3 separate regions of the Homo sapiens genome follow, and regions 1 and 2 are each linked to region 3. Evidence: fine-mapped expression QTL. A gene starts in region 3. Each other region holds a variant in brackets. All regions are shown on one strand. Distances are between the middles of the regions. Region 1 overlaps MAP2K5 (mitogen-activated protein kinase kinase 5). Region 2 has its middle 16 kb from the start of SKOR1. Region 3 holds the start of MAP2K5 (mitogen-activated protein kinase kinase 5).

The links. PIP is the estimated chance that this variant, and not a neighbour inherited with it, causes the effect.
Region 1: its variant is the best candidate, but not a certain one, in a credible set for the expression of MAP2K5 in whole blood (TOPMed, PIP 0.88).
Region 2: its variant is the best candidate, but not a certain one, in a credible set for the expression of MAP2K5 in whole blood (TOPMed, PIP 0.50).

Annotation. Positions count from the first base shown.
Region 1 is chr15:67,729,414-67,731,913 of GRCh38, forward strand. The region is part of intron 17 of MAP2K5 (mitogen-activated protein kinase kinase 5); the gene reads left to right. Among named protein-coding and RNA genes, the nearest start is that of SKOR1, 95 kb to the right of the region's middle. The variant A/G (reference allele first, on the strand shown) is at 1,091.
Region 2 is chr15:67,808,552-67,811,395 of GRCh38, forward strand. No RefSeq gene overlaps it. Among named protein-coding and RNA genes, the nearest start is that of SKOR1, 16 kb to the right of the region's middle. The variant C/T (reference allele first, on the strand shown) is at 1,536.
Region 3 is chr15:67,541,535-67,544,034 of GRCh38, forward strand. It overlaps MAP2K5 (mitogen-activated protein kinase kinase 5), which reads left to right and starts at 1,169. Exons shown (of 22, transcript NM_145160.3): 1 at 1,169-1,936. The coding sequence starts at 1,802. MAP2K5-DT (MAP2K5 divergent transcript) reads right to left here and starts at 1,096. Exons shown (of 1, transcript NR_186334.1): 1 at 1-1,096. RefSeq lists enhancers at 109-609, 262-311 and a silencer at 1,185-1,304.

The DNA of each region.
Region 1 (2,500 bases), 190 kb after region 3:
TGAGATTCCTAATGTCTAGAGTAGTTAATCAGTGAGATTTGATGGGTGATGAGTCTAAGAAATGGATTTTGCCATGGCCAGGTGCAGTGGCTTACGCCTGTAATCCCAGCACTTTGGGAGGCCGAGGTGGGCGGATCACGAGGTCAGGAGATTGAGACCATCCTGGCTAACATGGTGAAACCCCGTCTCTACTAAAAATACAAAAAAAAAAAATTAGCCGGGCGTGGTGGCGGGCACCTGTAGTCCCTGCTGAGGCAGGAGAATGGCTTGAACCCGGGAGGTGGAGCTTGCAGTGAGCCGAGATCACGCCACTGCACTCCAGCCTGGGCAACAGAGCAAGATTCCGTCTCAAAAACAAAAAAAAGAAATGGATTACTGCCACATTTGACAAGTGAAGCACATGAAAGCTGTGGTCAAATTTGAGAAGAGGCTATTTACCTTTGCAGTATGGTTTTCCTGAATGTCTAAATATATCTTTACTTGATCAGTCAAGTGGAAGTTGGAAAATTCTAATACTATGCTGAACTCCCTAGTTAGCAACAACCTTTATACCAGAGTTGGGGCGGGAAACAACTGTATTCCTTGAATCATGATAGAATGTTGTCACCAAATTGTTACTTCTATCTGAAATAATAGAAGCAGCTTTGATGCCGTTAGGCCTATTTCCTAAGTTTTTCAACAGAAGTTGGGGTGCGTCGTTGCTAGAACCACTAATGACTTTTGGTGGAGTTGGCATTTATTTTACAGGCTTTGTACTATAAGCTGAAGATTGGGAAAGGATACTTTATAAATGCCTTTCCTACCCCTCCCTTATGCCCTCAAAAAAAGCACATGAAGAAAAATGTGTATTTTTATAGTGTCACTGAGGCTGAGTTATGGAATAACACCTTCTCTTTGGCCCACGTTATGTCATTTGAACTCCTACCACTCTGTGAAATAGCCTCCCCTCATAAATTGGACAAACAGAATGGCTGATTTGCTCACTGTTAAAACTGTGACTGGTTTGGTTTCTTTGAATCCCAAGTGCAGTAGGCAGGAGTGAATCATAGACTCTTAGAGTTGGAAGGGATCTTAGACATCATCAAATCAA[A/G]CTTCTCTACAATGTCTCTGAAAAGCAAACATCCACACTGCTTGAACACTTCCAGTGACAAGAAACTCACTATCTTACAAAGCATCCACAGGGTCAAAGCAGTGTTCTATTTATCAAGCTGAGAACTATCTCATCCTAAGTGTCACTCACTAGTCTGATCCTAGAACACATGAGAGCCTTTCATATATCCTTAAGATCACATTGGTTTGATTGTTCCTAGGACTAGGGACAGTGCCAGGGAATTGCTGCTGTGAACCTAAAGTCTAATCAGGGCACCAGACCTGAGTTGTCTTCACTAGTGGCAAATTGAGAGGAGTGGCCTATTGGAAGGAGCCCTGGACCATGAGCCAGAGTATTAGAATTAGAATTAGGTGCTACCACAGTCTCACTGCAGGTCTTAATTGTTGCTTTGTAACTCTGAGGTGTCAGTTTCCTCATCTCTAAAATGAGGATTCTAATGCCTACCTCTTCTATCTGATTAAAGGAGGTATGCTGATCAAATGAGACTATGGATATGAAACCACTCTGAAAAGTACAAAGGGCCACCCATCTGGATCAGATGTTGGGCTGCAGCACAAAACAGAATTTCCCAGCTATCAATCATAGGTTGTAAAAGGATGTTCTTAGCAACATGCCAGCCACAATTGGAGCAGAGTATAAAATGAGCAGAGGGTAAAGTGGGGAGGAGGGGCCGGCTTCAAGACTTGTCTTTCCCCCAGCTCAGTGTCAGTGCTGCTGACAGCATCATTAGCAGCCCCTCTTCCTGCTGGTGACACAGTGTGTACCCAGTGAGGTCGCAGAGAGGGAGGAGTGTTGGGAAGATACTAGGGACAGTCAGTGCCCTGGGAGCAACATAAAGGTTAAAGGGCTGGGTTTTTGTTGAGATAGCCATTCTGTATGAGTTTCATTGTTTTGTGGGTTGGGTCTTTGTTATTTGAAAGCACTGTTTTAGTTTCCTTTAGGCCTTTGGGTTGCATAACTTCCTTGGCATGCAGTTTAGGGTTCTAAAGAAAAAAAACATGAGGAGCACAGTCTTATTACTACTGCCTATAACAGGAAAAACAATAGTGTCTTGGCTTCACCTGGCACCTTTCCCACATAGGGTTCCAGTCTCAGGCTGTTACCTGACTCAGGCTGTGCATTCTACCTGCAGGGACTTATTTCCAGCCTCTAGGTGAGCCAACTCAGGCTCAGAGAGGCAAAGTACCTTGCTTTAGGCAGGAATGGGTACAGTTAGGTCTAGGACTTGCAGACAAATAAGCCAACTCCCTGGCTCTTTAACTTCTTAATTCGTTTGGCTATTCATACCCCTGTTCTCCTTTCCACTCTGCCCCACAACCCTTCTTCTAGTTTGCCCTCTCTGCCCTAGGGAGGCCTCTTGTATAGATGAGAAATGCTGAGCATTGGAGG
Region 2 (2,844 bases), 270 kb after region 3:
TGGGGCCGCCTGTGCCCATTGCTTGCACCATTTTCCTCTACTGCATTCAGAACTGTGTGATACATCACTAATTTTACTTATTTTCTCTTCTGTCTCCTTCCTCTTCTGCCCTTCATTAGAATGGGGTCTCCACAAGGGCAGAAATTCTAGTCTTTTTCACACTGTATCCCCAGTACAAAGAACAAGGCCTCAGCTCTGCACAATAAATGTGTGTGGGTCAAATGGCCAAAATTGTGGAGCTGTGACTCCCAGCCCATGTGCAGTCCAGTGCCCCATGGAAGGGCACCCTATGTGAGGCATCATGTGCTTCCCAGGGCAGAGTCGGCTCATCATCTTTTTAGTAATGCTTTTCAAGGCACAGGCTCCCAGCTTTCTCTGAGCACCTGCCATTTCCCTGGGGTTAGATGGTCACAGAATTGGATGGGACCCCGGCCAGGAAGACCCTGGCCCAGTGCTCAGGGCAGGGAGAACTGCGGGCAGTGCACATGATGGACTTTCTCAGGAAGAGGCGCTCAGAGAGTGGGGAAAGCTTAGGGGCTCCCACACGGGGCTGACTACCTTGGAATGTGAATCAGCCACCACCCAGACTAAAGCGTATCCTTATTTTGAGAAGATTCATCCAGCAAACCTGTCAGCCCCAAATCCCAAGTCAAGGGCGGTAGGAAAAGTGAGCAGGTACCTTGCTGGGCAGTGTGCTTAGGGCTCACTGTATCAATTCGTTTAATCCCCACCATGATCCCAGGAGGTAGATGGTGATACGATTATTCTGCCCGTTTTACAGATGAAGAAACTGAAACACAGAGAGGCCAGATGACTTACCCAAGGTCACCCAACAAGTAGCAAAGCACTGTTTGGGACCCAGAGCCCTGCTCTTAGCCACAGCTCTGATAGTCAACTCCACACACACAGCACACATGTGCACATATGTACACACAGACACATGCCCTGTCCTCTAGCACAGAGGCTCCCAAACTCTGGTTTGCCAAGATAATGTTAGTACCTTTGGGAACGGGCCAAGGATCTCTTTGACCAGCTCCCCAGGGATACAGGTGCAGAGCGCCCCACAACAGCACTGAGAAACACTGCTCCAGACGCATGCTTTGGCCTGGAGACCAACTTTCAGGGTGATCTTGAACAAAGCACGTCTCCTGTCTGAGTCTGTTTCCTCATCTGTCAATGTAGGGGTTGACCTCACGGTGTCCTGGAGCTGCTCCCAGTCCTGATGTCCCAGAGCAGAGTTCTCACCATTTGGGTTCATCCTGTGAGCATCCTTGCCCCCAAATTACATCACCCACATGCATGCACGCACAGAATTTTGTTCACAACTCTAGGGTTTGTGGAGACCCTGGAGCTCACTCACTCATGACCCCCTGTCAAGGGCCCCTACTTTGGGGCAGCCCCCAACTATAAATTCCCCTCTGCCTTGAAGTCGAGAAGATGGGGAGCTGAGTGACCCCTGAGGGGTTCTCCTGCTAACACCCCTCTGGCCGGAGGCAGGTCCCTCTTTGGCCTGTTGAAGTGATTCCTCTAGTCAC[C/T]GTTGGGGGCCAGAGGCCAAGCTGCCCCTGCCCTCAGAGGTCGCGGGAAGGCTAAGACCTAGAACACTGCAGTGCCTGAGACTGGCCTAGGCAGCATGAGCTCTTTCCCTGCTGGAAAGCCACCCCCGCCCACCCTCACCCCATCCATGTGGCTAATTCCTATTCTTCCTTTCAGGCCCCTCTCAAACAGCACCTCCTCTTTGCTGCCTTTTTTTTTTTTTTTTTTTTTTTTTGAGACAGAGTTTCGCTCTTGTTGTCCAGGCTGGAGTGCAATGGTGCACTCTCAGCTCACAACCTCTGCCTCCCAGGTTCAAGCGATTCTTCTCCCTCAGCCTCCCGAGTAGCTGGGATTACAGGCATGCACCACCATGCCCGGCTAATTTGTGTATTTTTAGTAGAGATGGGGTTTCACCATGTTGGTCAGGCTGGTCTTGAACACCTGACCTCAAGTGATCTGCCTGCCTCAGCCTCCCAAAGTGCTGGGATTACAGTCGTGAGCCACCACGCCTAGCTGGCAGCTTCTTTATTTCCTTCTCTGGATATAGACTGTGAGCCCTTTGAGGGCAGGGATGAGGCTAACTCACCTCTATCCCAGCACCTGGCCCAGGGCCTGCATAGGGAGGGTGCCTGTGGTGTGGGACGGTAGGAGGGAGGGAAGGTAGGGTGCAGAGATGGGGCCCTCAGACCTGAGGCCCTTGGGGCCTGTCACTGTCCTGCTCGAATCTCTTGCTCCAATCCTCAATATCGCCCACTCACTTTCTAACTGGAGCTTCTGAGAGACGAAACCCTCACTGGAGGCAGCCTCAGGCCTCTCAGACCTTCAGGGGAGCCTAGAAGGAAGTGTTTCCAGGACAGGAGGATCCTCACGGGGCCCCAGTTCACAATGACAGGCAGGTGCCTCCTCTGCTTCTAGGTCTCTGGCTTGAAGGCCAGGAGGCCCTCTCACACTCAGCCCATCGTCCTTGCTTCTGTCTTTGGTTTTCACATGTGGGGAATGCAGGATACAGAATCCCAGGGCTTTGGAGATGTTCCAACAGGTCCACTGGGGCAGAGGAAGGAGAGGTGGAACCCTCTTCTCCAGATGTGGCGGGGACCTTGTGGTCCAAAGTAGTGTGACCCAGAGCCCCTACCCAAGGCCCAGCCCAGTTAGGGGGTTGGTCAGGCCAGTGAGGTGAAATGGATGGTACAGCCTCACTGAGGGAAGCTGCGGGTGCCCTGCCTGAACAGACCTGCATCTTTGGGGAGGCATATGCTTCCAGGTGTCTGCACACTCAGGCCAGTGGAACCTCCAGGTGAAGCCTCGGGATGA
Region 3 (2,500 bases):
ATAACCAAGGTTGGCCGGGCGCGGTGGCTCACACCTGTAATCCCCCCAGCACTTTGGGAGGCTGAGGTGGGCGGATCACGAGGTCAGGAGTTTGAGACCAGCCTGGCCAACATAGTGAAACCCAGTCTCTACTGAAAATACAAAAATGAGCGGGCACGGATGGCGCACGCCTGTAGTCCCAGTTACTCGGCAGGGGTTGGGGGCTGGTGGGGGTGGTAGTGCTGAGGCAGGAGAATCGCTTGAATCCGGGAGGCTGAGGTTGTGGTGAGTAGAGGTCGCGCCGTTGCACTCCAGCCTGGGCGACGGAGCGAGACTCCGTCTCAAAAAAAAAAAAAAAAAAGATAACCAAGGTTTATTGCTACTTCCGTGATATCACCATATCACCAACTGCGTAAGCAGTGCTATTTAGTTGAAAATACATGGACTAGACCGAATATTTCTGCAACAGTTTAATAAGAGACGATGATGCGACTACTGCAGCTGTCCCCAGGCAATTAAACTCTTCGGCGAATTTCTTTACTATTGCTTTTGAACAGGGAACTGTTTGCTATTTTAGGGCACTCGTGCGGTAAAGAACTTCACTGAAAAATGCAAATATGTTTTGCTAATGTGGGAGAAAGATGATGATCCTCTGAACCTGTGACTTGGAAGGGGGGATAAAAAAGAACTATTTCTTGAATTCTTGCCTTGCTCTTGCTGATTCGATGCACACAACCCCACGAACATTCAGATTCATGGCTTGACAAAGTGGGGATAACCGGGAGCTGCAGCCCCGTCTTTGAAGCTTTTGTAAAGACAAACGGTCTGCAATGTTAAGCCTTAAATTGGCTTTTGGCGGACTCCAGCCTTTTACCCTTCGTTTGGTAGATGTTTTCACCTCGCTGTCATTAAGCAGGGTCAGGAAATGGAAGGGCCGTGACCGGGTCGCCGCGGGCGCTCTGTGGGCGATGAGGGTCTCCTGAGCGAGCAAGACCAGTCTCTCCCCGACTCGCCACGCGCCACGCGCCGCGCGCCGCGCGCCGGTTCCTCGGCTTCCCACGCCGGGGGCGCATCCTCCCGGGAGCTGCTGCCCTTTTCCAACATGGCGCCGCGGGAGGCGGGTCCCGCTCGTCGGCTCCCGGGGTTCCGGCGCCGCGCGTTTTGGTTCCGGAGTAACAGTGTCGCCGCCGCCTTCCTCCTCCTCCTCTCGCCGCTACCGCCGTCGCCGCCGCCGCAGCCGCCGCCAGTCCGCGCGGCCTCGGGTGGCCGGAGCTCAGCCTGCGCGCGCCGCGCCCTGTGTCTCCGGGTGGGGCAGAAGACTCGCCCCTTGAACCTCCCGCGGGGACTCTCCGTGGTGTGGCGGCCCTGGGGCTCTTTCTTAATAGCCCCGGACTGAGTCCCCTCCAGTCGAGGACCCTCTCCTAGTCCACTGACGAGCGGTGGACACCTGCCGCTGTATCTCCCCCAAACCGAGTCCTTGCCCTGCTGCCTCCTCATACCCACACGGCGGCAGAGACCTTCACCATAGCGTTCGCTCAACTCCAGAACCTTCCGACCTCCGCTAGTTCCTGCGGGCCTTTGCCCGCTTCCCGGTGCACCCTCCCCGGGAGACACCTCAGACCCCCGACAGCCTGGGCAGGCTCGGTGCCTGCGGGTGCGTTCCTGATCACCCCTCCCCTCTTCCCTCCCCCTCATCCTCCATTCCCTTGTTTTCACCCTCTGTCCTCTGCCCGTCACTCCCCTTGTCACCTCTTGGAGCCCCCTCCTAACCAGCGGCCAGTGGGTTTCCCATACCCCAGGATGTGAGCCTCTTTAACCTGTAATGCTGTGGCTAGCCCTTGGCCCCTTTCCTGCCATGGAGAACCAGGTGCTGGTAATTCGCATCAAGATCCCAAATAGTGGCGCGGTGGACTGGACAGTGCACTCCGGGCCGCAGTTACTCTTCAGGGATGTGCTGGTGAGTGGTAATCTCAGTGTCCGGATGCCAGCAAGGGGGACTCAGGGACTTGAGTAGTCAGCACCTTGACCACTGGTGACCTGAGCCAGTGGCAATGGCTACTGCTGGCTTCCTGTGGAGGCAGTTTTATTGCTTCAGGCACAGCATTGATAAATTGCAACCACTAAAACCTGGCAAATGTCTAGGACCCTGGGGAGATAGATCAATCTGACTGAACCCCTGCCCTCAGAGAGCTCATGGCCCGGGCTGGGACACACATATAGACACAACCACGCAAATGCAAACTGCTGAATCTAGAAGAGAGGTTTTTTCCCCCCAAGTGTTTCGGGGAATGTCCTTGGACAGATTCCAGCCTTGTTTTTCTACTGAGTTCTCTGAACTTGGTGACCAGCTGAGAAAGGGAAAAAGGACAACTTTAACTTACCATGTTTGAGCACACTGTTTCATTAATTTATTTTGAGACAGGGCCTCACTCTGTCGCTCAGGCTGCAGTGCTGTGGCACGATCTCGGCTCACTGCAGCCTCTGCCTCCTGGGCTCAAGCGATTCTCCTACCTCAGCCTCC